4 linked regions of the Homo sapiens genome follow. The protein of the gene in region 4 interacts with the protein of the main gene of each other region in a pairwise test. Each region holds a gene or a part of one and is shown on either strand. Other genes may lie near its edges. The genes, in order: KATNBL1, PGAM2, KATNB1 and KATNAL1.

Evidence for each region.
Region 1: the proteins of KATNAL1 (region 4) and KATNBL1 interact in binary tests that used the Homo sapiens proteins (3 or more experiments, as listed by UniProt).
Region 2: the proteins of KATNAL1 (region 4) and PGAM2 interact in binary tests that used the Homo sapiens proteins (3 or more experiments, as listed by UniProt).
Region 3: the proteins of KATNAL1 (region 4) and KATNB1 interact in binary tests that used the Homo sapiens proteins (3 or more experiments, as listed by UniProt).

The regions. Positions count from the first base shown.
Region 1 is NC_000015.10:34,200,078-34,207,107, reverse strand, and holds part of KATNBL1 (KATNB1-like protein 1), read left to right. Parts: intron 1-7,030.
Region 2 is NC_000007.14:44,062,562-44,070,319, reverse strand, and holds PGAM2 (phosphoglycerate mutase 2), read left to right. Parts: upstream 1-4,752; 5' UTR 4,753-4,790; coding exon 4,791-5,204; exon of another isoform or gene 5,205-5,307; coding exon 5,308-5,488; exon of another isoform or gene 5,489-7,389; coding exon 7,390-7,556; 3' UTR 7,557-7,593; downstream 7,594-7,758. UniProt on the Homo sapiens protein: Interconversion of 3- and 2-phosphoglycerate with 2,3-bisphosphoglycerate as the primer of the reaction. Can also catalyze the reaction of EC 5.4.2.4 (synthase), but with a reduced activity.
Region 3 is NC_000016.10:57,752,770-57,757,774, forward strand, and holds the end of KATNB1 (katanin p80 WD40 repeat-containing subunit B1), read left to right. Parts: intron 1-8; coding exon 9-159; intron 160-307; coding exon 308-498; intron 499-619; coding exon 620-750; intron 751-1,175; coding exon 1,176-1,226; intron 1,227-2,160; coding exon 2,161-2,228; intron 2,229-2,349; coding exon 2,350-2,469; intron 2,470-2,575; coding exon 2,576-2,725; intron 2,726-3,071; coding exon 3,072-3,148; intron 3,149-3,222; coding exon 3,223-3,297; intron 3,298-3,586; coding exon 3,587-3,703; intron 3,704-4,044; coding exon 4,045-4,177; 3' UTR 4,178-4,475; downstream 4,476-5,005.
Region 4 is NC_000013.11:30,297,549-30,304,578, reverse strand, and holds part of KATNAL1 (katanin p60 ATPase-containing subunit A-like 1), read left to right. Parts: intron 1-7,030. UniProt on the Homo sapiens protein: Regulates microtubule dynamics in Sertoli cells, a process that is essential for spermiogenesis and male fertility. Severs microtubules in an ATP-dependent manner, promoting rapid reorganization of cellular microtubule arrays.

The sequences.
Region 1 (7,030 bases), on a different chromosome or scaffold from region 4:
TGATCATATCACTGCACTCCAGCCTGGGTGACAAAGCAAGACCCTGTCTCAGGGAAAAAAAAAAAAAAAAGTATTGTCTAGTAACAACAAGATGCATCATAACATTACACTAGTCAGTATTATGTTGATGTTTTATCAATCATTATATTTGTTGATCCATGTTAGTTAATTTGGTGCTTTCTGGAAAATGTATTTAGGAATATAATGTTTTTTAATTAAACACCTTAAACCTAATACAAATGGTACTTTTACTGGGAGCATACACTTTTTAAATTGGAAGGGTGTAATTTGACTTTTCTTTTCTTTTTTTTTTTTTGAGACGGAGTCTTGCTCTTGTCTCCCAGGCTGGAGTACAGTGGCAAGATCTTGACTCACCACAACCTCCACCTCCCGGGTTCAAGCTATTCTCCTGCCTCAGCCTCCTGAGTAGCTGGGATTACAAGCACCCACCACCACGCCCGGGTAATTTTTGTATTTTTAGTTGAGACGGGGTTTCGCCATGTCGGCCAGGCTGGTCTTGAACTCCTGACCCAGGTGATCCGCCCACCTCGGCCTCCCAAAGTGCTGGGATTACAGGCGTGAGCCACCATGCCCGGCGTAATTTGACTTTTCTTTGCCAGGTTCAAATGCTGTGTTTACTATTTCTTGCTCATCTAAGTATTTTTTCACTACCAGCTTAATACCCCTTAACTTTGGAGACTTCTGCGTTATATTTACCATTCTTGTTCTTGGAGCATAATGAGGGTAGAAATGAGAGAAAAGGTATTTTGAAAGGACTCCCTTTTTTGCTTCCTGTAACTACCTCTCTCTCCTTCAGTTTTATATACTGTCTGAAATTCTTTTTGCCTTGAGCAAGTCACCCAGAAACCTACCACCTATGTATGAGTCATGAGATGCTCATTCTAGCATCTCCTCTGCCCACTAGCATACTCTTAAGATGCACAGCTTGGTGTTACAGTGGGAAAGGCACTATTACTGTAAGTCGCAACGCTAAGCCTGTTAGTAACTAAGGGTTTTTGGGCAAGTGATTTAATCTCATCTGAAATTATCTCCAAGGTCGAGAATCTATAAAATAGTTACTTATTGAGGGGTGTTCTTTGGTGAGGAGGGAGACCTGTGGGGAAGAGGCCTCTGGATAGTCTTTTACATCTTAGTGTGATTAATCATAGATTATTTCTCCTAAAGGCATTTTTAAAAGCTACTTATATGATAGGATTGAGGAAGAAATCTTAGGATGGAATTTAAAGGCCAGTAGAATATAAGCTTCAGTACAGCAGGGATTTTTGTTTGGTCCACTGATGTTTCCCTAGTGCGTAGAATAGTAATTAGTCTGTAACATGTACTTAATATTTGTTGAACGAGTGAAGAAATGAAGGAATGGGTTGCTGGGGAAAGATAAAATTTGTTGGAGTACTGCGCAGATGCTCTGAGTATCTTGAAGGAATTCAAAATGCAAACCAACCAGAGTACAACCCATCATTCCTACAATGTAAAAATACCTCCCAGCAGTAGCAAAGTGTCTATTGTTCACTTAATCGCCTTTCAGAACTATTAAGCGATTACTGCCCTGGCTGCCCCTCTTACTCACAGAGTAAGATTTTGACCATCACCACATACTTAAGTGCCAGCTTGACATTTCAGTATGCATTTTACTCTTACTTTCAAAAACCTATGTCCTAGCCATTCCCTGTGCTACACTTAATATAATCAATAACAGGACATTTACTGTTGTAGCAAAAATGAATTATATATATTGATTAAAATTTGGCCTTTCATCCATGGAGGATTCATGGCATAGCATTTAAAAACTGGCACTCTTCAGGCACAGTGGCTCATGCCTGTAATCCCAGCACTTTGGGAGGCCTACGTGGGCGGTTCACAAGGTCGAGAGATCGAGACCATCCTGGTCAACACAGTGAAACCCCGTCTTTACTAAAATACAAAAAATTAGTTGGGTGTGGTGGTGCACACCTGTAGCCCCAGCTACTCAGGAGGCTGAGGCAGGGGAGTCACTTGAACCCGGGAGGCGGAGGTTGCAGTGAGCCGATATTGCACCACTGCACTCCGGCCTGGCAACAGAGCGAGACTCCATCTTAAAGGAAAAAAAAAAAAAAAAAACTGTCCCTCTTTGCCTTCCTGTTCCACAACTGCCATATAAATAATCGTCAAGAATAGTTTTTTCACATATAATTCGTATACAAAGTTTCTCAGTAAGTCTATTTTGTCTACAAGATAAAGTCCAAATTCCTGACCTAGCATTCAGGGACTTCTGCATTTTAGCCAACTACCTTTTTATTCTTTTCCCTTACAGTGGCCTGTACTCAATAATTACTTAATTATTGAATAGTTGGTATAGAAAATAAGGAAACAAAAAGCAGTTATTCTTGCCTACAAAGTATGTTTCCAGTTGAAGAAAGTCTGGCAGATGGTTTTTCAAGAAGCCTGTATGGGTGGCATTCATTGTTTGAGTGAATTATCCATTTAGTGAAAAATAGCATTAGAGACAAGAATTCCTTAAAACTCCATGTAAACAGTTTTTTTGATCCTTGTTGACAGACCTGTTGGAAACTAGGTAATACAGTCTACCCTCAGCATCCATGGGTTCTCTGTATGGAAGCCATGAATACGGAAGGCTGACTAGGGGACATGAGTATCCACGAATTTTGGTATCTGAGGTGGTCCTGGAACCAGCCGTACTCAGATACTGAGGGACAACTGTAATAAGAAAAGAATTAAATATGTATATCTAGTGACATCAGTTTACATTGCAAGTAACCACTTAGTGGGACTGACTGAATCATTCTGTGCCCACAGCATTGCTTGAACAGTTCATCAGTCTGGATGGACTAGGTGATTTTGTAGTAACAAACAGCACCCAAATCTCAGTGGCTTATTTCAGAGGTTTATTTTTCCTCAGTTCATGTTACACATGAGCTGTCTGGGCCTGTGCTCCTAGTTTTCCTTGCTTAGCAATGTGGACAGGGGAGTCTTAACTTTCTGGCCTGTTGTTGGTTACCTGTTGATGGTTAGAGGTAAGGTAATGGGAGTGAATCACACACACTGGCTCTTTTTTTTTTTTTTTTTTAATTAAGTTCTGAGGTACGTGTGCAGAATGTGCTCTTTGTTACATAGGTATACACATACCATGGTGGTTTGCTGTACCCATTAACCCGTCATCTACATTAGGTGTTTCTCCTAATGCTATCCCTCCCCTAGCCCCCCACCCCCCAACAGGGCCCGGTGTGTGATGTTCCCCTCCCTGTATCCATGTGTTCTCATTGTTCAACTCCCACTTATGAGTGAGAACATGCAGTGTTTGGTTTTCTGTCCTTGAGTTAGTTGCAGTGAGCTGAGATCGTGCTACTGCACTCCAGCCTGGAGACAGAGCAAGACTCCATCTCAAAAAAAGAAAAAATAGATACCAGAATAAGTGTATCTATTCTAGGTACAATGAACATGGTTCCTGCTCTCATGGAGCTCACAGTCTAGTGAGAGGTCATGGGCAATAAGTGCATAAGCTAATTTCCAGATGGTGATAAATGTGGTGGGGGAAAAATACAGGGTACTGCTATAGAGAATGATTGTAAGTGAGGGTGGGGTTATTCTTGATTGGGTGGTGAGTGTGTGGGAGGAATATTTTAAGCAGAAAGAATGGCTCAGCCACAAAATGGAAATAAGTTTGAAATGTTGAAGGACAGAAGGCCAGTGTGGCTGAAGCATTTAGGAAGCTATTATATAGTCTAAAGGAGTTGGTGGTTTGGTCTAGAATGGTGGTAATGGAAATGGAAAGAAACGGACAGCTTGGGAATATATTATAAAGGCAAAGTCAACAAATTGGATGTAGGTTATTAAGGAAAAAAGAAATCAAGGATGAATCCTTTATTTCAGGCTTGAGAAATTGGAAGGAGGATGGTTCCGTTTACTGAGTTAGGGACTGTTGGGAGGAGCAGATTTGAGAGGGGGGATATTAAGGGTTCTATTTTTAATATGTTAAGTTCAAGAATAGATGACTATTGGATATCCATGTGGAGCTGGCTAGTAGGCAGTTGGAGATTTGAATCCAGAGTTTAGGTGAAACAGTATGATGAGAGATTTTATTTATTTATTTTTATTTTTTTTGAGACAGAGTCTTGCTGTCGCCCAGGCTGGAGTGCAATGGCGTGATCTTGGCTTACTGCAACCTCCGCCTTCCGGGCTCAAGCAATTCTTCTGCCTCAGCCTCCCCAGTGGCTGGGATTACAGGTGCCTGCCACCATGCCCAGCTAATTTTTGTATTTTTAGTAGAGATGGGTTTTCACCGTATTAGCCAGGCTGGTCTCGAACTCCGGACCTCAGGCAATCCGCCCACCTAGGCCTCCCAAAGTGCTGAGATTACAGGCGTGAACCACCGCGCCTGGCCGAGATTTTATTCTTAAATGAAAGTTAATATGTTAATTTTTGTTATAGTTAAGTCTTGGACACAGGAGTCATATTTTCTTGAGCCTGCAAGTGATTCTTCTGTTGGAGAAGAAAGTGTTCCCTGAGAGAGGAGGCATTTTCAAACCTTAATATACGTTCTGATTTCAGCCTAGGAGATATGGTGGTGCCCAACCACTGTAACTGTTGGGGATGTAATATAATCCTCACAAGTTTTGGAACATAAAGGTTTAAGAACCGTTGTTATAAAAAGATTTTGAATGTCTCTAGTATCATTTTTGTTAATTCTTAAAGGATGATCTACCCTTTTTTCCAAGGCTTAGGGTATACTTAACCCTGTTGACTTCTGGTACTGTAGAAATTAGGCACAAGTGTCGTAGGGTGGTGACATTAGTCCAAATAATGAAGATAGAGTTTTTTAATTAATTTATATTAGCTCATCATTTTGAGAGTTGAATACTACTTTATTGGTATATCCTCTCATATGTAGAGAGTCTATTGGTTTTGAAAGTATCAGAAATACCTTTAGTAGGCAAACAAGGGTCAAAAATGATCCTTAAAGTGACAATGTTTTATGTATGTATACATTCATCCCTCATTATCTATGGGCGATTGGTTCCAGGACCTCCCAATGATATCACAATCCGAGGATGCTCAAATCCCTGATATAAAGTGGTGTAGTATTTCCACATAACCTTTGCACATCCTCCCATACACCTTAAATAATTTCTAAATTATTTGTAATATCTAGTACAATGTAAATGCTATGTAAATAGTTGTTATACTGTATTATTGGGGGAATAGTGATGAGAAAAATAAGTCTACATATTCAGTAGAGATGTATTTTTTTTCTAAATAGTTTTGATTGGGAATTGATTGAATCCACAGATGCTGAACCCACGGATACAGAGGGCCAGTTGTATATATATTTTCCATTTCTGAGTCCAAGAAGACAATTAAAACAGAATCAAGTATTTTTTCCTCCCTGTTGAATATTTCCAGAAAATACTGGGTTATTCTAACAGGGAAAGTAAATTGGAATTTGGCGAATTCACCAAAACATGCTAGAATAATCATAACCATCTACTTCTAGGCGTAAGAAGTCCTAAGTCTTCCCAAAGATTCAGGTGTTTTATAGCCATTTAAGAAAATATGTATATAATACTCTAATACATTATAATTAAGTTAAAACATACTTGCACATTATACAAAATTCAAAAGGCCCAAAAGGGAAAAGTCTTCTCCCTTCACCCCCTAGCCACACATATCCTCTCACTAGAAGTGACTTTTGTCCCCAGTTTCTCTCATATCCTTCAAAAGATATTTAGTGAATATACAAGTAGTCCCTCACAGACACACACTTTTTAACCTAAGTGGTAACATAGTGTTTTGCTACCTTACTTTTTTCTCCCTACTTTCCAGTATAAGGCATAGTTATGTTTTTTAAAAAGCCTGTGTAGGTCCACAACTATGGATGGTGATAAACATCTACCTAGTTCTTTAATTTTATTTTCCCATTATTAGTCCCAGTTCCCTAATGTAGTAATCTAAGTGGACTTGATTAAAACTGAGGAAGAGGCCGGGTGTGGTGGCTCAAGCCTGTAATCCCAGCACTTTGGGAGGCCGAGGAGGGCAGATCACGAGGTCAGGAGATCGAGACCATTCTGGCCAACATGGTGAAACCCTGTCTTTACTAAAATACAAAAAATTAGCCAGGTGTGGTGGTGTGCACCTGTAATCCCAGCTACTTGGGAGGCTGAGGCAGGGGAATCGCTTGAACCTGGGAGGCAGAGGTTGCAGTGAGCTGAGATGGCGCCACTGCACTCCAGCCTGGCGACAGAGCAAGACGCTGTCTCAAAAAACAAAACAAAACAAAACAAAAACACTGAGGAAGAGGTAGTAGGAAAGCTAATTCCCACTTGGCATCTCTTTTGTAATTTTTATTTCAGGGTATCTCAGTCATAAGAGAGTTGGAATTCAGTTTGATCCAAATTGATTGAAATGATATAGTATTGTACCCACTGAATCTCCAGACATCTGTCTTTATTTTCATGCTTGATCTGCTTTCCCGAGTTTGACGTTATTTCTCAAATCAGCTTACTGTGGAAAACTGAATTAAGAGAAAGTGGTGGGCGGGGCGTGGTGGCTCACGCCTGTAATCCCAGCATTTTGGGAGGCTGAGGCAGGTGGATCAAGAGGTCAGGCGTTCGAGACCAGCCTGGCCAATATGGTGAAACCCCATCTCTACTAAAAATACAAAAAAAAAAAACAATTAGCTGGGCGTGGTGGCACGCACCTGTAATCCCAGCTACTCAGGAGGCTGAGGCACGAGAATCTCTTGAATGCGGGAGGCGAAGGTTGCAGTGAGCCGAGATGGCGCCACTGCACTCCAGCCTGGGAGACAGAGGAAGACTCCATCTCAAAAAAAAAAGAAGAGAGAGAGAGAAAGTGGTGTGATGAATCATCATTCAGGAAATATTAAACCCTTGAGATATCAACTTTGAGTTGTTCCGAGTAGGTGAGAGGTGAAGCCAGCTGGGTTTCTGGGTTGGGTGGGGACTTGGAGAACTTTTCTGTCTAGCCAGAGGATTGTAAATGCACCCATCAGTGCTCT
Region 2 (7,758 bases), on a different chromosome or scaffold from region 4:
GTGGGGATTCATTGTTTTGCACGTGGAAATCCAGTTGTCCCAGCACCATTTGTTAAAGATACTATTCTTTACTCATTGAATTATTTTGGCACCCTTGTCAAAAATCAATTAACCATTGTGTGAAGGATTTTTCCCTGGACTCTCAATTTTTGCATATGTACTCATAAGAGGTTGGTCTGTAGTTTCCTTAGGTTGTTTGTCTGGGTTTGGTATCAGGGTAATACTGCCCTCAGAGAATGAGTTGTTACCTTTTACTTCAACCTACTTGTATCCTGTTATATTTAATGTGAGTTACTTAAAGACAGCATATAATTAGGTTTTTATAATCCAAACTGATAATATGTCGAATTGGCGTGATGAGGCCATTTATGTTTAATGCAACTATTGAAATGTTTGGCTTTAGATCTACCATTATGTTGTTTTCTGTTTGTTCCCTGTTTTCCATTGCTGTTTCTTCTTTCCTTTTTTCCTTCCCTCCTATCTCTCCTTCTCCCTATACACACACACACACACCCCCAACACACACACATAGTGGTTGTTCTAGGGGTTCTAATACACATAGTTTTTTTGTGTTTTTTTTTTTTTTTTTTTTGGAGATGGAGTTTCGCTCTTGTCGCTCAGGTTGGAGTGCAATGGCACAATCTGGCTCACTGCAACCTCCGCCTCCCGATTTCAAACAATTCTCCTGCCTCAGCCTCCCGAGTAGCTGGGATTACAGGCATGCACCACCACACCTGGCTAATTTTGTATTTTTAATAGAGACAGGGTTTTGCCATGTTGGTCAGGCTAGTCCCGAACTCCTGACTTTAGGTGATCCACCCACCTTGGCCTCCCAAAATGCTGGGATTACAGGCATGAGCCACCCTGCCCGGCCAAATACACATACTCTTACAGTCAATTTAGATTAATGTTTTGCCATTTCAAGTAGCATGTAGAAACCTCACTACCATCTAGGTCCCTTCACCCTTCTCCCCTCATGTTCTAGTTGTCTTACATCTGTATACACTGAAGCCTCCATCAGACAGTATCATGACTTAATTCAACCATCACATAACTCTTAAAGAAGTAAAGAATAGTTTCATATTTATGTGGACTTTTGCCATTTATGATGTTCTTCCTGCATTCCCAAAGTTTTGAATTGCCCCCAGTAATCTCTTCTGTCTGAAGAACTTGGTTTAACATTTTTTTAAAGCAGATTCTTTGGTTATGAATTTCCTCAGCTTGCCTTCATTTGAGAATGTCTTTATTTCATTCTTTTATTCCAGTAAAATAGAAATTTTTACTGGATATAGAATTCTTGGGTGACAGTTATTTCAAAACTAAAAATGTTCCACTTCTTTCTGGCCTCTATAGTTTCTGGTGAAGATCCAGTCTTTCAAAGAATTGTTCACCTGAATGAAATGTATCGTTTTTCTCTGGCTGATCTTATTTTTCTTGGTCTTTAGTTTTCAGAAGTTTCTTTATGATGTGTCTAAGCTTGGACTTTTGTTGTTAATTTATCCAGTTGTGTGGTTCACTGAGCTTCTTGGTTTGTAAGTTTATATCTTTTTCCAAACTATCATCTAATTTATGGACTCCATGCTTTGTCATTTCCATTCTGTTTAAGAATATTCACCAATACTTTCTGAAGGCTGGTTATAAATAGCTGCTTTGAAGTCTGTATCTGATCATTCCAATAGTTGAATCATCTCAGGATGGGCATGTATTGATCATCTTCTTTTCTCCCATGTTAAGATTTTCCTGGTTTTCATACACTGGGTTATTTTGGATAACCTGGATATTTTAAATATTATGTTGAGACTCTGGACCTTGTTTAAATCCTAAGCAGAATGTTGACTGTTTAAAGTGTTTGCACTACTAGTCATATTAGTCCTGTATCTACACCGGTCAGTCTGGGACCTGCAATGTGCATCTAGGGTCAGCCCTGTGCGCAGCTTGGCAGCAAGCCAATGACTTCACATATCACTTTATCGGATCACTCACTTCATCTCTCCCTTCTCTGTACTCTCCCTGAAACACAACAGCTCCCTGCAACATCCCTACCAAGACCTCCAGCCACAAATCTGGGGCTCTTTCCCTACCTACCCTGCTGCATACTCCCTGAAACTGCATCCAGGGCCCAGCGCAGGGGGGCAGAAAGGAGCTGCAGAAGGTGGTTGCCCCATGCTTTTGGGGCCATGGCTCCTCTAGACAGAGGGTAGCGTTACCCTCTCAGGTTTCAAGTGCGTACCCAGCTCACACTACCGTCACTGTGCCACCACTGCCACCTCCATGTTACTGCCCAGGAGCTGGGGTAGAGAAGAAAAGAAAAATTGGAGGGATTCCCCCAACTCACTGACTTCGAGGGGCTTCACATCCCACTCCTCTGATTCTTCCTGGAGCTCTTTCTGTTGGTGCACTTGAGGTTTCAAGCCGCCTGTGTGTCCAGGCTAGGCAATACTTGTTACCTCACCACTTCTCTGCGGAACTTTGAATCTGATCTCCTTTTCTTATCTGTCTACTGACAGCTGCTCCTGCATCTGTCCAGGATTGGTGGCTGTCAGTGGGAGAGACATGGGAAGATGCTCCCTCCACCTTCCTGGGACCACCTTGTTGACTCAGCAGCCTTCCTCGCCGCCCACCATGCTATGCCTTCCTGGATGGAGGCCCTGAGGGTGGCTTTTGGTTTTCCTACCCCTGTACCCCTCCAAGAAAGCTCTGGCACACTGCAGAGGCCAGCAACTACTTGTCAAATGAATCAAAGGAAAGTCAAGCCGGAGCCAAGGGTCAGAAGCAGGGGCTTGCTTCCCCGAAGTCCAGCCCTTCTTTGGGCTCCCCTTTCCTTTTTGACACCTCCTGCTTGGTTGGCAGTGAGGTCTCCCAGGTCTGGGGGATCCTTGCCACTGCTTCTGCACCCAGCCCTGGCTAAGCGGCCTTGTTCTCATCAAAGCTGCCGAGACCTGCAGGGTACTCAGCTTCTACTTCCACTCCTACACAGCTGCAAGTGACTTGAAAATATGACCATGCTTCAAAGTCTCCAGTGATTCCCACTGTGTTGGGACACAAAGCCCACCTCTCTGCCATGTGCCCCTGATGGTCGCTGCCCCAGCTTGTTTGCTTTCTGTAGGGCTTGGGTCTTTGCCAACCCCTCTACCTGAATTGCTCTCCCTGTAGGACTCATCATAGCTGAGGCCTTTGCACTCCGCTCTTTCCACTCACATGTCACCTCAGGGCTGTCCCCGGCCTCTCCTTTCCCATCTCTCCCAGTACATTATGGTCCTTCCTTCCTAGCATCTGGTGCTATCTACGGTAGGCATGTTTAGCTGCTGGTACGATCCCTCCTCCACTGAAATATGGGCTTCATGTCTGGCCCCTGTGGGACTGCCAGAGCCTGGTCCTCAGTCATGTTTAGTTGGGCTAGTGAATCAACTCTTGGTCAAAGGGACAAAAGCAGATGAGGAGATGTGGCTTCAATCAGGATCAGTGTGGAACAGTGAGACCTGCGCATGGCACTGCTAGGAGGGATGGGTTCCACCTGCCAGCCTTGGGGGTCCTGGCAGCCGACAGGACTTTGCCCACTGGGACTTGTCTGCCAACCTTTGGGTACAGAGCCTTAGCTTCACAGGCCCCAAGCCAGGAGCCCCTCCCCAGGTAGGCCAGCAGGGATGGAGGGAGGCCTGTCGAGGGTTTCTTGCACACTCAGATCCAAGTCTCAGAGTGGTGGTCCCTCTGCTGGCCTCTCACCTACCCGCTCCTGTTATCAGAAGTGTCGCAGGTGACAGTGTGGTCACTGGGGTGGGAGGAAATGGGAGGCCCTGGATGGGGCCCATGCCCAAGGGTCTGGCCATGGCCCCTTCATTAGGGCCCCAATTGTGACTTTATTGCTCATAGTCTCTTCCCTGCCTTGGTGGCTCTCATCCCCCAAACCTGAATGCAGAAGTCTTGGTCCTAGACTCAACTCCGTGCCACCCTTCAGCCTACGTTGTGGGTTCCTGCTAAGCTGAGCATTTACCTAACAATCAAGACTTCTGACAGTCCTCAGTCCTGCCCCCAAACCCCCTTGGATTTCTCTTTTTCAAGGTGGTTTCGGCTAGGAGAGTGAGCGTGGCTTGGGTGAGGGCAGATAGGGTGGGAGCATGGGGCATGTATGGATGAGACCTTGACAAAGGGACCCCGGAGGAAAGACAGGGGCCCTTTCCCCCTTTGTCCTGGAAACCCGGCTCAGCCCCAGCCCTTGCCCATTCTGCTGCTGCTGCCTGGTACCTTCCACAAGGCCAGACTCCTCTCCACAAAGCTGTGGTCTGCACCAGCTCCTCTGGCTCTCCTCCTCTGCCTGCTGAGGGCCGCCTCCTAGCCTGGCTGCCAATCACAGGAGAAAGGGGTTGGGATTTTGTTTGTGCCTCTGTCTGAGCAGAGAATGGCTGATAGGCCACTGAGCGTTGCCCTGGAGAGCCCCTCTGTCCCTGCTATCCCCATCTCCCCTGGCCCAGACTTCTGCCCTTCACGCCCATCCCTGACCAGCAGCCCCACTCAGTCTGGGCTCTGGGTGCCAGCTGGTTATAGACATGCCACCTGAACCCAGGCCAGGAGCTGGTGGATGCGTGGGGCTATTTTAAGCACAGCCTCTTGGCCTGCACACTCCCCTGGCCCCCAGCCCCCAGCAGCTCAGCTACTGGTCACCTGCCACCGCCTGGAATGCTGATTGGCAGTTGGCTGGGGTGGGTGGGGGCTGGGAAGACACTATTATAAAGCTGGGAGTGTTGGGAAGCAGCCGTCCCCGTCCAGAGTCCTCTGTGGTCCCTGCTGCCACCATGGCCACTCACCGCCTCGTGATGGTCCGGCACGGCGAGAGCACATGGAACCAGGAGAACCGTTTCTGTGGCTGGTTCGATGCAGAGCTGAGTGAAAAGGGGACCGAGGAGGCCAAGCGGGGAGCCAAGGCCATCAAGGATGCCAAGATGGAGTTTGACATCTGCTACACGTCAGTGCTGAAGCGGGCCATCCGCACCCTCTGGGCCATCCTGGACGGCACGGACCAGATGTGGCTGCCTGTGGTGCGCACTTGGCGCCTCAATGAGCGGCATTACGGGGGCCTCACAGGCCTCAACAAGGCAGAAACGGCCGCCAAGCACGGGGAGGAGCAGGTGAAGATCTGGAGGCGCTCCTTCGACATCCCGCCGCCCCCGATGGACGAGAAGCACCCCTACTACAACTCCATTAGCAAGGTGGGCTGCCTTTGCTGGGAAGGCCTCTGGGAAGCTGCAGAGTGGGGAGTCGGGTGGGGGCCCACTGGCTTGGGAGGGAAAGCAGCGTGCCTGTGTCCCCCAGGAGCGTCGGTACGCAGGCCTGAAGCCCGGGGAACTCCCCACCTGCGAGAGCCTCAAGGACACCATTGCCCGGGCCCTGCCCTTCTGGAACGAGGAGATTGTTCCCCAGATCAAGGCCGGCAAGCGAGTGCTCATTGCAGCCCACGGGAACAGCCTGCGGGGCATTGTCAAGCACCTGGAAGGTGAGGCCACCTTCAGGAGCCTGGGCAGGGTGGGTGGGCAGCAGCCCCAGCTGGCTTCTCATCTCAGCAAAGTCTCTCGCCCATGGACCAGGCTTTCTAGGCGTGGGGCTCCACATCATTCACTGAAAAAGGAGGGCTGAGAAGCCATTTTTTAGTTTTGTGAAATTTTCCCCATTTCTGTGTAACTGGGACACACTCCACAGGGGCTGACTGCACTCGAAGCTCGCTGTGTCCCGAGGTGGGGCAGGCTCCAAAGGTGGCATCTGCCAAGGGACACCCAGCTAGGAAACGGAAGGGCTGGGCTTAGAGCATCTGGCTCCAAATCCCAACTTACTGTGGGGCCCTGGACAAGCCACCTCCATCTCTGGGCCTCTCCCTTTTCCGGGGTGGTGGGGAGCTCCCCCTGGTACTGAATTCCTCTTGATGTAGGCTTGGACCCCTCGCAGGGCCCTCCCCCATCAGGTCCTCAGAATCCCTGCATGAGCTTCACCACCTATCTCCCTCTGGAGCCCCTCTCTGGGCAAAGGAAAGACCAATCAAAAGAGGGGTGCAGGACTATGGAGTGGCCAGACTCTGGGCTTGCAGCTGGGCTCCCACTGAAGAGCAAGGGCTGACAAATGGGCCCGGGATGCATGGGCGCAGTAAGGCCTCGCCCAGAGTGACTGGCACCTCCGCTCCGCCTCCCACCTTAGTATTCTGACACAAGGGCAGTCTAAATTAGCATCTGAATGACCTTAAAGCTTGTTGAGTCCTGGAAAGGCTAGAAGGGTGTGCCCCAGACCTCCTGCTCCTAGGGCCGTTGGGCAGTTGGCCAGAGCACCCAGACCGGCAGGCCCCGGAGACCCAGCCAGCCCCAAGCCTGCCCGCTCCAAACACGGACACCTGGCACCTGGCACTGGGGCCAGGCAGAGGGAAGGACCACCTGCCTCCTCTCCCTTCCGGAGACTTCATGCAGCCCCATGACCCTCCCACAGCCTGGTTTGGGGAAAGGGGACGCACTTTTGGTGGTGAATATGAGGGATTTCACTCTGACTCCCCAGAGAACATTTTCTTAAACCCTCCTGCACGGAGCAGGGGTGGAGTGGCGCGAACATCAAAGGTCGAGCTGCTATTCCCAGCTCAGGGGCTGCAGGAGGCAGGCAGGGTCAGGTTTCGACCAGGCTCGGCCTCCCTGTCCCTCCTCCAGCTCCATTCCGCACTTGCTCCTCTGTTCAGGATGTCTAGAATTTAGAGCACTTTAGAAACCAAAGGGTGCTGGGCACGGTGGCTCACTCCTGTAATCCCAGCACTTTGGGAGGCTGAGGCAGGCAGATCACCTGAGGTCAGGAGTTTGAGACCAGCCTGACCAACATGGTAAAACCCGTTTCTACTAAAAATACAAAATTAGCCGGGTGTGGTGGCGCTCACCTGTAATCCCAGCTACTTGGGAGGCTGAGGCAGAATCACTTCAACCCAGGAGATGGAGGTTGCAGTGAGCCAAGATCGTGCCACTGCACTCCAGCCTGGGCAAGAGGAGTAAAACTCCATCTCAAAAAAAAGAAAAAGAAAAAGAAAAGAAAAAAAAAAAACAAAGGGTGAGTGTCCCTTCCTGACCCTCAACTTCAGTCTGGCTGGAGTCACACTGGGCTGAGGGAACTATGGACAGCACCACCACAGATCACAGCCACTTGGGTGGGGCTGAAGTCCCCATTTTTTTCACCACTGGGCTATTTCTGTAGGCTGCTTGGTCTAACTCAGTTACTCCTTGACCTTTGGCAACATTTCTGTGGCCTCGTTCTCAGGGCTGGGAAGGAATTGGTGCCAGGGGAACTGGCTCTGTGGACCATAAAGGTCACATAGTGTCTGCTGTGTAAACAGGCTGGGGACAGAGGGGCTAAGGACACCTATTCCTTCCGGCATAGGGATGTCAGACCAGGCGATCATGGAGCTGAACCTGCCCACGGGGATCCCCATTGTGTATGAGCTGAACAAGGAGCTGAAGCCCACCAAGCCCATGCAGTTCCTGGGTGATGAGGAAACGGTGCGGAAGGCCATGGAGGCTGTGGCTGCCCAGGGCAAGGCCAAGTGAGGGGTGGGCTTGGGCAATAAAGGCACCTCCCCCAACAGCCTGGAGTCCAGCGCAGCCGTGCATGCCAGGCTCACACCGCCATCAGCTGTGGGGACTCCAGAACCAGGGGTGCAGCCACCCACCCTCCCCCACTCCATACGTGTGTCACCAGGGGCAGGAGCCTAGTACCCACACCTAGTCATCAGGACACTGAGCCAGGGCT
Region 3 (5,005 bases), on a different chromosome or scaffold from region 4:
TGGCCCAGGAGCGTCCTCTTCAACCCAGACGGCTGCTGCCTGTACAGCGGCTGCCAGGACTCACTGCGTGTCTACGGCTGGGAACCTGAGCGGTGCTTTGATGTGGTCCTCGTCAACTGGGGCAAGGTGGCCGACCTGGCCATCTGCAATGACCAGTTGGTGAGAGAGCCATGGCACCCACCGCCCCCCACTCCCACAGGGCCACCCGCCTCCCTCCAGCCCAGGCCCCTCCTCCTACCCCCACACTGGGGCTGGGATTTTGCCCCCTCGGCTTGCAGTCCCAGCCCCACCTCTCCGCTTTCTGCAGATAGGTGTGGCCTTCTCCCAGAGCAACGTCTCCTCCTACGTGGTGGATCTGACGCGTGTCACCAGGACTGGCACGGTGGCCCGGGACCCTGTGCAGGACCACCGGCCCCTGGCACAGCCACTGCCCAACCCCAGCGCCCCCCTCCGGCGCATCTATGAGCGGCCCAGCACAACCTGCAGCAAGCCTCAGAGGTGAGGGCCTGGGGGGCCTTCGGGGGCCCAGGAGAGGGACTGTCACAGGGGAAGCCTCGGAGTTCCAGCCCTGGGCCTCACAGGGCACCTGCTTCCGTTGGGCTTGGCCTCACGCTCCCAGGGTGAAGCAGAACTCAGAGAGCGAGCGCCGCAGCCCCAGCAGCGAGGATGACCGGGACGAGCGCGAGTCCCGCGCGGAGATCCAGAACGCCGAGGACTACAACGAGATCTTCCAGCCCAAGAACAGCATCAGTGAGGCCGGGCTCCCGCCCCCAGCCCAGCGTCCCCATCGGTGAAAGGGAGGCTGGGGGTCCTTCCAGGGTAGCCTGCTGTGGCTCCGCATCCCTTTAACTTCCTCCTAACCCACACCTGGGCTCCGTATCCTGTCCTCACGTTCCCTGGGCCTTGCCAGGCTGTGCTCTGATGGAACTGAGAGGGGGGCCTGGGCACTCCCCAGCAGCGGCCCAGCAGCTGCTCAGTGTCCCAGTCCCTGCCCTGCCAGGGACAAGTGGGCTGGGAGGGGCAGGACTGAGGGTTCCTGGGACCAGGAGCAGGGTCCACAGTCTGCAGCCGCATGCCTGGGAGCTACCCTCCGTCCCCCGCACTCTGGACAGGGCCCTGGGTCCCAGGTGGCCTGGCCAGGAGCGCTCACAGCCAGGGGCCTCTTTCCTCTGCAGGTCGGACGCCACCCCGGAGAAGTGAGCCCTTCCCTGCACCCCCAGAGGACGGTGAGTTGGGTGAGCCTGGTTTCCCAAGGTCTCTGATGCCCCCCCGTCCCTCATCTTCTCTTCCTGTGAACCCTCCCAACAAGCCCCTTCCCAGGACCCTCCCCTCTCAGGACACGACCCACACCCTCTCCCGCTGGGTCTCTGCCCTCTGCCTGTTATGTGCCAGGTCCCTGCAAGACCGATAGTGCCCCCGTAGGAGCCTGTGCCCTGGTGTGTGGGGGACAAACATGGACACCACCACACTGGGGGGCCTGCCAGGGGCACTCGGGCTGTGGAGGATGGAGAGGAGTCACTGGGGGCCCACCTTAGATGGGGTCTGCTGTAGACGGGATGATCGGGAGGCTCTCAGGAGGCCCAATGCCTGTCAAGGCCTGGGGGCCAGTGAGAAGAGAGAGAGAGAAGTGCTTCTGGCAGGAAGGGAGCTGAGAGGAGGTGAGCTGGGGCGAGTCCCAGCAAGAGGTCAGGCCCACAAGGCCTCAGCTGGGGGTTTGGATTAAGAAGGGAGAAAAATGATCTGCACTGTGGTTGGAGAACGGGCAGGCATGGGGCCACCTGTCCTGTAGAGTACCCCTGCCCTCCCCTCAGGGACCGTCCTTGCCGTCAGTCCTGGCTTTCCTAGGAGCCTCCACTTCCATCTTGCCAGTCATCCCAGCCCCCTCCACATACATGCCAGTGAAGGGACAGGATGGCCACATCCTAGAGCCCCCTGGGTCCCACCCACAGGCAGACCTAAGGTTGAGTTGGGGGAGAGGGAGGAGGCAGGTCCAGGCCTGCCCCAGGTCCTCTGGAACCCCCACGCCACTGGCCTGCAGCCTCCCCCATGCTCCTGCTCCATCCCCCCATTGCAGATGCTGCCCAGAGTCCCGCCCTGAGCCCTGCCCTTCTTGCCAGGCCCTTCTGGCCGGACCCAGTCATCTTTTCCTTTTGCCTCCAGACGCAGCCACAGCAAAGGAGGCAGCAAAGCCCAGCCCTGCCATGGATGTGCAGTTCCCGGTGCCAAATGTATGTCCATGGAGGGAGCATGGTGTGGGGCCTAGAGAAGGTCCTGACCCAGGGTTGGGGGTGCCTCGGGAGGCAGAGAGGGAGGCCCCAGGCCGGCAACCGCTGAGTTTCACACTTTCAGCTGGAGGTCCTGCCCCGGCCCCCAGTGGTTGCTTCCACACCTGCACCCAAGGCTGAGCCTGCCATCATCCCTGCCACCCGGAACGAGCCCATCGGGCTGAAGGCCTCCGACTTCCTGCCCGTGAGTAGGAGCCCAGCTCGAGGCATGGGTGGAGGTCTGTGGGTGGAGGGCAGAGCTTTGCTGCTGGCTCCTCCCATGCCAGCATCTGGGTGTCCATCCCACGCAGGCCGTGAAGATCCCCCAGCAGGCCGAGCTGGTGGACGAGGATGCCATGTCACAGATCCGCAAAGGCCACGACACCATGTGTGTGGTGCTCACCAGCCGCCACAAGAACCTGGACACTGTGCGGGCTGTGTGGACCATGGGCGACATCAAGGCAAGTGCCCACCCTTGCACAGGGCCTCATCTCGCCCCCCTGCCCCTGCCACCTGCCTGCCCGGGCTTGGGGCAGAACAAGAAGAGGCCACCCATGGGGGACAGTGTGGGATAGGCCATCCCTGACGTCACACCATCTGTTTCCGCCATCATCATCATCATCACAGACTGCCGTTTAGTGAGCATCTGTTTACATGCCTGGCCTTACACTCATTGCGTTAGGTGCAGTGCTGAATACCCACAGCCCCATCAGCACACCCACATTCACGTTCGTACCCCCACCCTCACCCTCACAGGGCCACACTGTCCCCCACTGCCCCACCCCTGACGGTGCTCTGTTTGCACAGACGTCGGTGGACTCCGCTGTGGCCATCAACGACCTGTCGGTGGTGGTGGACCTCCTGAACATCGTCAACCAGAAAGCGTAAGTGGCTGCAGAGGGGGAGTGGGCGGAGGGGCAGGGCTGGGCTGATGGCAGCATGTCCTGGCCTCTCCTAGCTCCCTGTGGAAGCTGGACCTGTGCACCACCGTCCTGCCACAGATTGAGAAGCTTCTGCAGAGCAAGTATGAGAGGTGCGTGTGGGGAAGCCATGCCTGCCTGAAGCAGGGGGAGGGGAGAGGTAAGAAGCCTCCTCCAGAACCATGGGAAGGACCCCCAAGAGCCTGGGTGTTCCTGTGAGCTGGCTGTGAAGCATTGCTGCCCCTCAACAGTCCGGAGGTGGGAGTGGAAACAGGCGTGTGTGGGTGTATGTGTGGGTGTGTCTGTGTCTGTTTCTGCCCCTCTCCTCCTTTGTTCCTTGCTGTTTCTCTTTCTGTCTGTGGCCCTTGGTCCATCTGTGACTTCATCCATCTCCCCCTAAAGCTACGTCCAGACGGGCTGCACCTCCCTGAAGCTGATCCTGCAGCGGTTTCTGCCCCTCATCACAGACATGCTGGCGGCCCCACCCTCTGTGGGTGTGGATATCAGCAGGGAGGAGAGGTGAGGGCAGCGCATGTGTTGGGGGCAGGGGTGCCACAACAGGTGAGGGGACAAAGGCCTGGAGGCCTGGGCCCCTCTTACTGACAGTCCTGCTGGGACAGAGTACAGAGGAGGCGTTGGTCTGGGGCCATGGCTCAGGGTGTGGGTGGGCTTAGCCAGAGCTGGGTTCCTCCATGGCCTGGCTGTGCCCACAATCCCTGGCAGGGCCTGGGTGGTTCCCCTCTGGGCCTCCGCCTTCCCTTGGGAGGAAGGGCTGGAGCAGTTAGGACAGCAAAGGCCCTGGGGTTGGGTGTGGGTGGTGGTGGTGCCAGCTAGCCCCTCAGGCACTGCCCTCTCTACAGGCTGCATAAGTGCCGGCTCTGCTACAAGCAGCTTAAGAGCATCAGCGGCCTGGTCAAGAGCAAGTCAGGCCTGAGCGGCCGCCATGGCAGTACCTTCCGCGAGCTGCACCTGCTCATGGCCAGTCTGGACTGAGGAAAGCAGTGGGCAGGGGCGCTCGGCAGCCCACAGGGCCTGGCCTCAGCCCCCACTCCTGTTCCTTGTGCACCCACTGGCCCATGAGCCTCTGCCTGGCCCCTGCTGCTGTCCTGTGGCCGTCCTGGAGGAGGTGATGCTGGTCCCTGGCCACCTCTACAGCCCTGAACTCTTGAGACAACTCTCTCCAGCAATAGCTGCCCAGCTTTGCCCAACTGTTGCTTCTTGGGGCAGCGAACTGAGCCCTGGGGCTGCTGCTGTAATTTATAAGGCAAATTTTATTAAATTTGTAACTATTCCCAGGTTTCCTTGTGGGGAATGTTTTCTGCTGGCCACAGGGCTCCCCGGGCCCAGGAGTGCCTGCCCCATGGTTTGAGATGAGGCCACACCCCCTCCAAGCCCGGGGGTGGGGCTCTGGGCCATGTGGCCAGCAGGGGGCAGCAGAGAATCAGGCCTCTGGGACAGCACCAGTTCAGCCAGTGCAGACTGGGAAGGAAGGGGAGGCGGCAACCACCCTTCCACCACTGGGTGTTGAGGTTAGGGGTGGCCCCCACCAGCCCGTTCCTCCCCACCTCAGCTACACTCAAGCTGTCTTATGGACACCCCCAGGATGCCTCCAGGGGCAGGACTAGAAGGGCACCTGCCCCTTCCTCTGAGCAGGGCTCCGATCAGCTGTCACTCCCTGCTGGAGTCCCCAGCACTGGCTGGCGGGAAAGGGCTCCCTGCTCCGTGGGCACTGCGACAGGTGGGCCCCCTCCTGCTCCCAAGGCAGGGACCAGGTACAGCCCCGCCCCGGGGTGGTCAGGGTCCTCGGCACTGGAGGAAGGT
Region 4 (7,030 bases):
AAATGTGTGTAGGCCGGGCGCAGTGGCTCGCGCCTGTAATCCCAGCACTTTGGAAGGCTGAGGCGGGCAGATCAGGAGATCAAGAGATCGAGACCATCCTGGCCAAGATGGTGAAACCTCGTTTCTCCTAAAAATATAAAAATTAGCTAGACATGGTGGCGCACACCTATAGTCCCAGCTACTCAGGAGGCTGAGGCAGGAGAATAGCTTGAACCCAGGAGGCAGAGGTTGCAGTGAGCCAAGATCATGCTGCTGCACTCCAGCCTGGTGACAGAGCGAGACTCCGTGTCAGGAAAAAAAAAAAAAAAAAGAGTTGTGTGTATGTGTTTGCGGGAGGAGCCTACAAATGAGACCCTAGTTAGGAGGCATAGAGGAAGAAGAACTGGGAGAGAGCATAACAAAGGAGGGGAAAATAAGGAAAGAAAGTAAGTTGTCTAATTTTGTGTCTCCAACTTATTTTCTGCATGATCATAGGCAGGTCTCCAAATCTGTACCCTTATTTCATATGAGGTGTTAATACTATTTATTTGATTTTGGGAAGTTGAAACAGTTTAGTGGAGGTAAACCCTAAAGTGCTCAACAACTGAAAGCATTTCTTCTCCCACTTCCTTACTAACAGTGTGGCAGGACTGCCAGTTCTGTCTGATAGAAAGGCCCTGTTCTAGACTTTACTTGACCATATTAAGCAGGTGGATCAGGTAGTAGTTATATTACAAAGTGATGATTAGAGTCTGAGGACTAATCAATTTTTTAAAATGAAGCTTCCGTTAATGCTATAAAATGTTATTGTATAGGGCATTAATACCAATGTACTTTTGCCTTGTTTTCATCTTCAAAGAAACAGGAAGTTCCACTAGATAATATGAGAGCTCAATGGCTCTAAAATTCTTCAATTCTGACAGTATTTAATGTCTGGACTGATTTGTGATTTCACTGATATTTGAGCATCTGTAAATGAAAATATGTTTATATTTTAATGTGCTCAAGAGTATTTCATTTTATTTTTATTTTTTGGAGACAGGGTCTGACTCTGTCACCTAGGCTGGAATGCAATGGTGCAGTCATAGCTCACAGCAGCCTTGAACTCCTGGGCTCAAGCAGCCTTCCTGTCTCAGCCTCCCCAGTGGCTGGGATTTCAGGCATGTGGCCACACCCGGCTCAACATTATTTTAAACATTTTTCTCTTCAGTGATAACTATACTTATATATGGTAGTCCCAGGGAAATTGTGCCCTAGAATACCTGATAAAAGTGAGATATGGGCATTTGCCAGATAAATTCAAGGCATAGATTGTGAGAGTAGTTTAAAAAAAATGGAGTAGTTTTTCAAGGTGGTTTAATCTTCACTGGATGTCTTTAGATATGTTTCTTTTGCTGGGGTATGGTTTGATTGTGGTCCTAACTGAACGGATGGCAAAGGAGTAAATGACCTTTTAAGTCCTTTTGTAACTTTGTTCTGTCCATTAGTAATTGTAAAAGCTCCTATTAGGCAGCCTATTAAAAAGTGAGCTTTGGTTTGAAATCTTATTCTTTTTAATATTTTGCTATGAAGCTGTTTTTAGTGAGCACTTTTTATAGTTTTTAATCATATCTCAGTATTGTTTTGCATTTTGTAAAGAATTTAATGCTTAGTTGCTGATCCCCCAATTGTATTTACTTCCCAGGGTATTATAGAACTCTTTAGAATGGTTATTTTGTGGACATTTATCAAACACATGTGCCTTGCATTTGAGTTCAAGAAACATTATTGTGTGTCTTTATGTCAAACAGTGCACCAAATGATACATGATACATGAATAAGATCTGGCCCCTCTCTCAAAGGATGTTACATTTCAGTCAGTGCTCAAACTAGTTTTGGTATACTCACTCTTGTGTTTTTTAAGGAAATCATCTCCAAAAAACAATGTATTTTATTTCTTATTTTCTTAGCTTTTACGTGTTTGAGGGACAAACAATATAACTTCATTTGCTGTATTTCAATAAGTTGTTCCTTTATTCTCGTTTATTCCTGTCTCTGTGAGTGTCTTTATATGTCAGTATTCTTTTCTTTCTGATGTTTTACTCTTTCCATTTTTCCTGGTGATTTGGCAGTAGGAAGAGAAATGAATGAGAGAATCAGTAGTGACTGTTTTTTTTTTCTGACCTACTTCTGTGAGAGTATGGATGACTGGTATTTAACACATAATTCCTGATATTTTTATACTTGTATTTTCTCTGCATTATTAGATATTATTTGAAGTCAAGAATTTTATGTTAGTGAACTCCACGTGGCCTTACATTGTTTCTTATATGTATATAGGTTATTTGCTTAATGTGGTAGGTGCTTACTAATTAGTTTAGATTGAATGATGAATGGATGAGTAAGTAAATATGATTATAAAATTACTTGTTCAAAGACTACTTGAGTCTGGGTGTGGTGGCTCTTGCTTGTTATCCCAGCACTTTGGGAGGCTGAGAGGGGCAGAAAGCTTGAGTCCAGGAGTTTGAGACAAGTTGCCTGGGCAACATGGCGAGACATCATCTCTGCAAAAAATACAAAAATTAGCCAGGCGTGGCTGCGCACACCCGTGGTCCCAGCTACTCAGGAGGCTGAGGTGGGAGGATTGGTTGAGACTGGGAGGTCCAGGTTGCAGTGAGCTGAGATTGCACCATTGCACTCCAGGCTGGGCGACAGAGTGAGACCTTGCCTCAAAAATAAATAAATACATACATACATACTTCATAAAATACAGTAATATGAAGCAGATGGTTTTGAAAGGTTTTAGGCTGTTCAAAGCACTATGAAATTAAAAAACAAGTAGTATTTAATTATATAGGCAACCACAACAAAATATCTTTATTTCTGTTAATAAGCCTTTTATATTTATTTTTAGATTAGCTGCGTAACTTTAAAGGAATTTGAGGCAGTAAATTGTAATGAGCCAGGAGGACAGGCTCTGAGTTAGACACATCTGGGTTCAAATCCAGGCTCTATGGGCAAATTATTTAAATTCTTTAAAGCCTCAGTCACCTCCTCTGCTAAATGGTGGGTAACTGTTACTGTTTTGTAGTGTTATAAGGATTAGATGAGATAATGCCTAGAAAAACATTTTTATCGTATTACTTGGTGGGGAGTTAGCATTCAATAAACATCGCTACTATTATTTTTGTGCTAAAAAGGGTATTTATGCAATTAGATAAAGTTTATAGGGTTTTTTTTGTTTGTTTTTTTCAGACAGAGTCTCACTCTTGTCGCCCAGGTTGGAGTGCAGTGGCGCCATCTCGGCTCACTGCAACCTCCGTCTCCTGGGTTCAAGCTTCTGCCGCCTCAGCCTCCTGAGTAGCTGGGACCACAGGCACTCGCTACCACGCCCCGCTAATTTTTGTACTTTTTTAGTAGAGACGGGGTTTTGCCATGTTGGCCAGGCTGGTCTTGAACTCCTGACCTCAGGAGATCCGCCTGTCTAGGCCTCCCAAAGTGCTGGGATTACAGGCGTGAGCCACCATGCCTGGCCAAGTTTATAGTTTAAGCTGTCATCTTGAGACACAGTAACAGATGATCCACATTTTCTGTCCTTTGTAATATTTTAAAGCTGCCAGTAGAATTTAGAACATGAGCAGAAATTACTGTGATGGTTACTTTTGAGAAACGTTTAAGCTCTTAGAACCCTATATTAGTATCTAGATTCTTTTATGTTTATGAACAGTTTTTTTTTGTTTCTAAAATATTTGAGAAGTGATTTGTATACATGTAAAAAATAAATGAAAAGCCTTAATTACTACATACATTCTTCTGTAATGTCTGGGTTTGTGGTTGTTTTCTTTATTATTCATGGCAAACTGTAGTCCTTGAGACTATTACCCAAAATAAAGAGATGGGAGGTATTGTGGTTTTCAAAATTAACTATTTGGTTGATTAGTACTCACATAGTAGGTTCATTTATTGTGCTTGAAACATACTTCAGGATGCATTAATTTGAGAAGTCATGGTTATGTGTTTCCTTAATTGCTTTTATTTATAGCAGCCATTGTATGACATAAACTGGACTTCGGTGATTTGGAGAAACTTTTTTTTTTTTCATTAAGCATGTAAAGCCTGGACATATTGATAAAATTCATTGTGGTACAAAATATTGAAAATAAAACTTGATTTGTTGTTTTGCTTACCACTGTTCTAATTAGTGTTATTTAGTTCACATTGCTATAGTTCAGGTTACTTAGGTGTTTCTGAAATAGGCATCTACTTTCAGGAATTTACAACTTTTAGGAGGAAAAGGAACAATAGGAGAAAAATATGGAAGTGTCAGAATAAAAATAGTTTAAAGCAGAAATTATTTTCTTAGCCTCATATGTATTGTAAGTATAACTGAATTAGATTGACATCATTCACATAAAATTAGTTTAAAAAATGTTTTGTTTCCTCTTCAAAAACCATTACTGTGGAGACAAAAGAATGATAAATATTATGATTTCATTTGTAAAAGGAATTATGAGTGACATCCCTGGTGGGATTGGGTTCTGGATACAAGCTAGCTTTTCATTTTTTCAATTATATGTCTTAGTCTTGGCATGAGATAAAAAATTCAAGTATGTTGGGAGAGAATGTGTGTGTGTGTGTGTTGTGGGTGATGGTAGATTTAAAGGAGAGAACAGAAAGGTTGGAGATGTAGCTGAAAAGATGGCTTTATGTGTTACATTTAGATCTGAGTCATGAAACAGTTACAAAAATAATTATCTGGAACCAGATAAAGCAGTATTCCTTCTTGATCTGAGCATGAACTTGGACTGAGCTCTTCTCAGTCTGAGCCTAGAACTCTCCTTGAAGGTATTATCTGGAGCATTCTGTATAGGGCAACTTTGCTGGGTCAGTTCAGCAGTAAATACTGTAAGAAGATGCTTAATTTATTTTTGAATACATAATCTCAAAATAAGAGACATTGTCAAATATTAGACATTGCTAAAATATTTTGTCTTTAGATTTAACCTGACATTTTAAAAAGACCTAGAAATTCTTCTAATTTATATTAAAGGAGATTTAAAAAACTATGTTTCAAGATTATGACTAAAAATAATTTTAGTATAGCTTCTAGAAATTTATAATGAAAATTGAATCAGTTGATTTCTTTTTTTCAGAGGAAAAATTAACTGCTTCAGTTATCTGCATTGATGTTGAGTGTAGAGTAAAAATATTCCTTATATTGATTCAGTGTTGTATGTGAGGAATGATGTTAACATATGATCACATTTAATTTTTAAAATAACCTTATGATAAATATTATTTTTCCTATTTTGTAGACAGAATTGAGGCTTATTGAAATTATATGATTTGCCTGAGGTCACAACTAAAAATTTATGGTGCCTGGATTCATATCCAGGCTTTTCTGTCTGAAATTTTTATGTGGCCTTTATCAAACATAAACTTGAATGGTTTGGTATACAATTCTAGGTTGCCAACCCCCTACACCCTTACCCCTTGGAAGATATTATTTCATTGTCTCCAGGCTCCCACTGTTCCTCTTGAAAAGTTAGCTGTCAATATAATTTCTTTCCTTTGTATATAATTTGTCATTTCTTTCTGTTTTAAATGTTCTTCAGTCTTACTACCTTGTCTCTAGGTGTGAACTTTGATTTGCTTTGAAACTGAAAATTATTGTCTTCTGTTAGTTTTGGAAAATTCTCAGCCACTGTATTTTTGAATTTTGCCTTTCTTTTTTCTCCTGGAATTCATAATAGACATACATGATGGATCTTCTCTTTCTACTCTGTTGCATTTCTTAATCTTATTTACTTATTCTCTATATGCTGCATTCTGGTCAGTTTCTGCAGCTCTGTCTTCTGGTTTATTGATTCTCCTTTTATCTGTGTCTAATCTCTTGCTTCCTCAGTCCACTGAGTTTTGTTTTTATTTCAGTGACTATATATTTTAATGCCAGAAGTTCTTTTTGATTATTTTTCAAATAAGCTTATTTATTTTAAAATTTCTTGTCCCTATGTCTTTAAATGTACTTATTTTACAGTAGCTAAAAAGGCCTTAATTTTGCTTTATGTTGTATTAATTCTCCCTCATAGTGGATTGCTTTCTTTGTATCTTGTAATTTTAGATGTAAACTCAGTGGAAATAAAGTAAAGCCTGGGTAAATGATATGTCCTGTACTTTTGTGATTTGTTTCTGTGAAGTGCGCTATGGAGAACTGATGAGTGAATAAACAAATTTTAGTATGTCTATATAATGGGATACTACTCAGCAATAAAAAGTAATTACTGATACATATAAGGGCATAGTTGAATCTCAAAAGCATTATTCTAAATGAAGGAAATCAGAGTATATACCATATGAGTTTATTTATTTTGCATTCTAGAACTGACAAAACTGCAGGCATACTTGAGAGATACTGTGGGCTTTGTTTCAGACCATTTTGGTAAAGCAAATATTGCGATAAAGCTAGTCACACAAATTTTCTGGTTTCCCAGTGCATATAAAAGTTACGTTTACACTATACTATAGTTTATTAAGTGTGCAATAACATTACGTCTAAAAAATGTACATGTCTCAATTTAAAAATACTTTAAAAATTTTTAACTTTTATTTTAGATTTAGGGGGTACATCTGCACGTTTGTTACATGGGTATATTGCATGATGCTGAGGTTTGGGATATGAATGATCCCGTCACCCAGAGAGTGAGTGTAGTAGCCAAAAGATAGTTTTCCAACTCTTGCCTGCCTCCCTCCCACCTCTATTAGTTTCCAGTGTCTGTTGTTGCCATCTTTATGTCTAGGAGTATCCAATGTTTAGCTCCCACTTATATGTAAGAATATGTAGTACTTGGTTTTCTGTTCCTGCATTTATTTGTTAAGGATAATGGCCTCCAGCTACATCCATGTTGCTGCAAAGGGCATGATTTTGTTCTTTTTTAAGACCATATAGTATTCCATGGTATATATGTACCACGTTTTCTTTATCCAATCCACTGTTGATGGATACCGAGATTGATTCCATGGCTTTGCTATTGTGAATAGTGCTGCAGTGAAGATACGAGTGCATGTGTCTTTT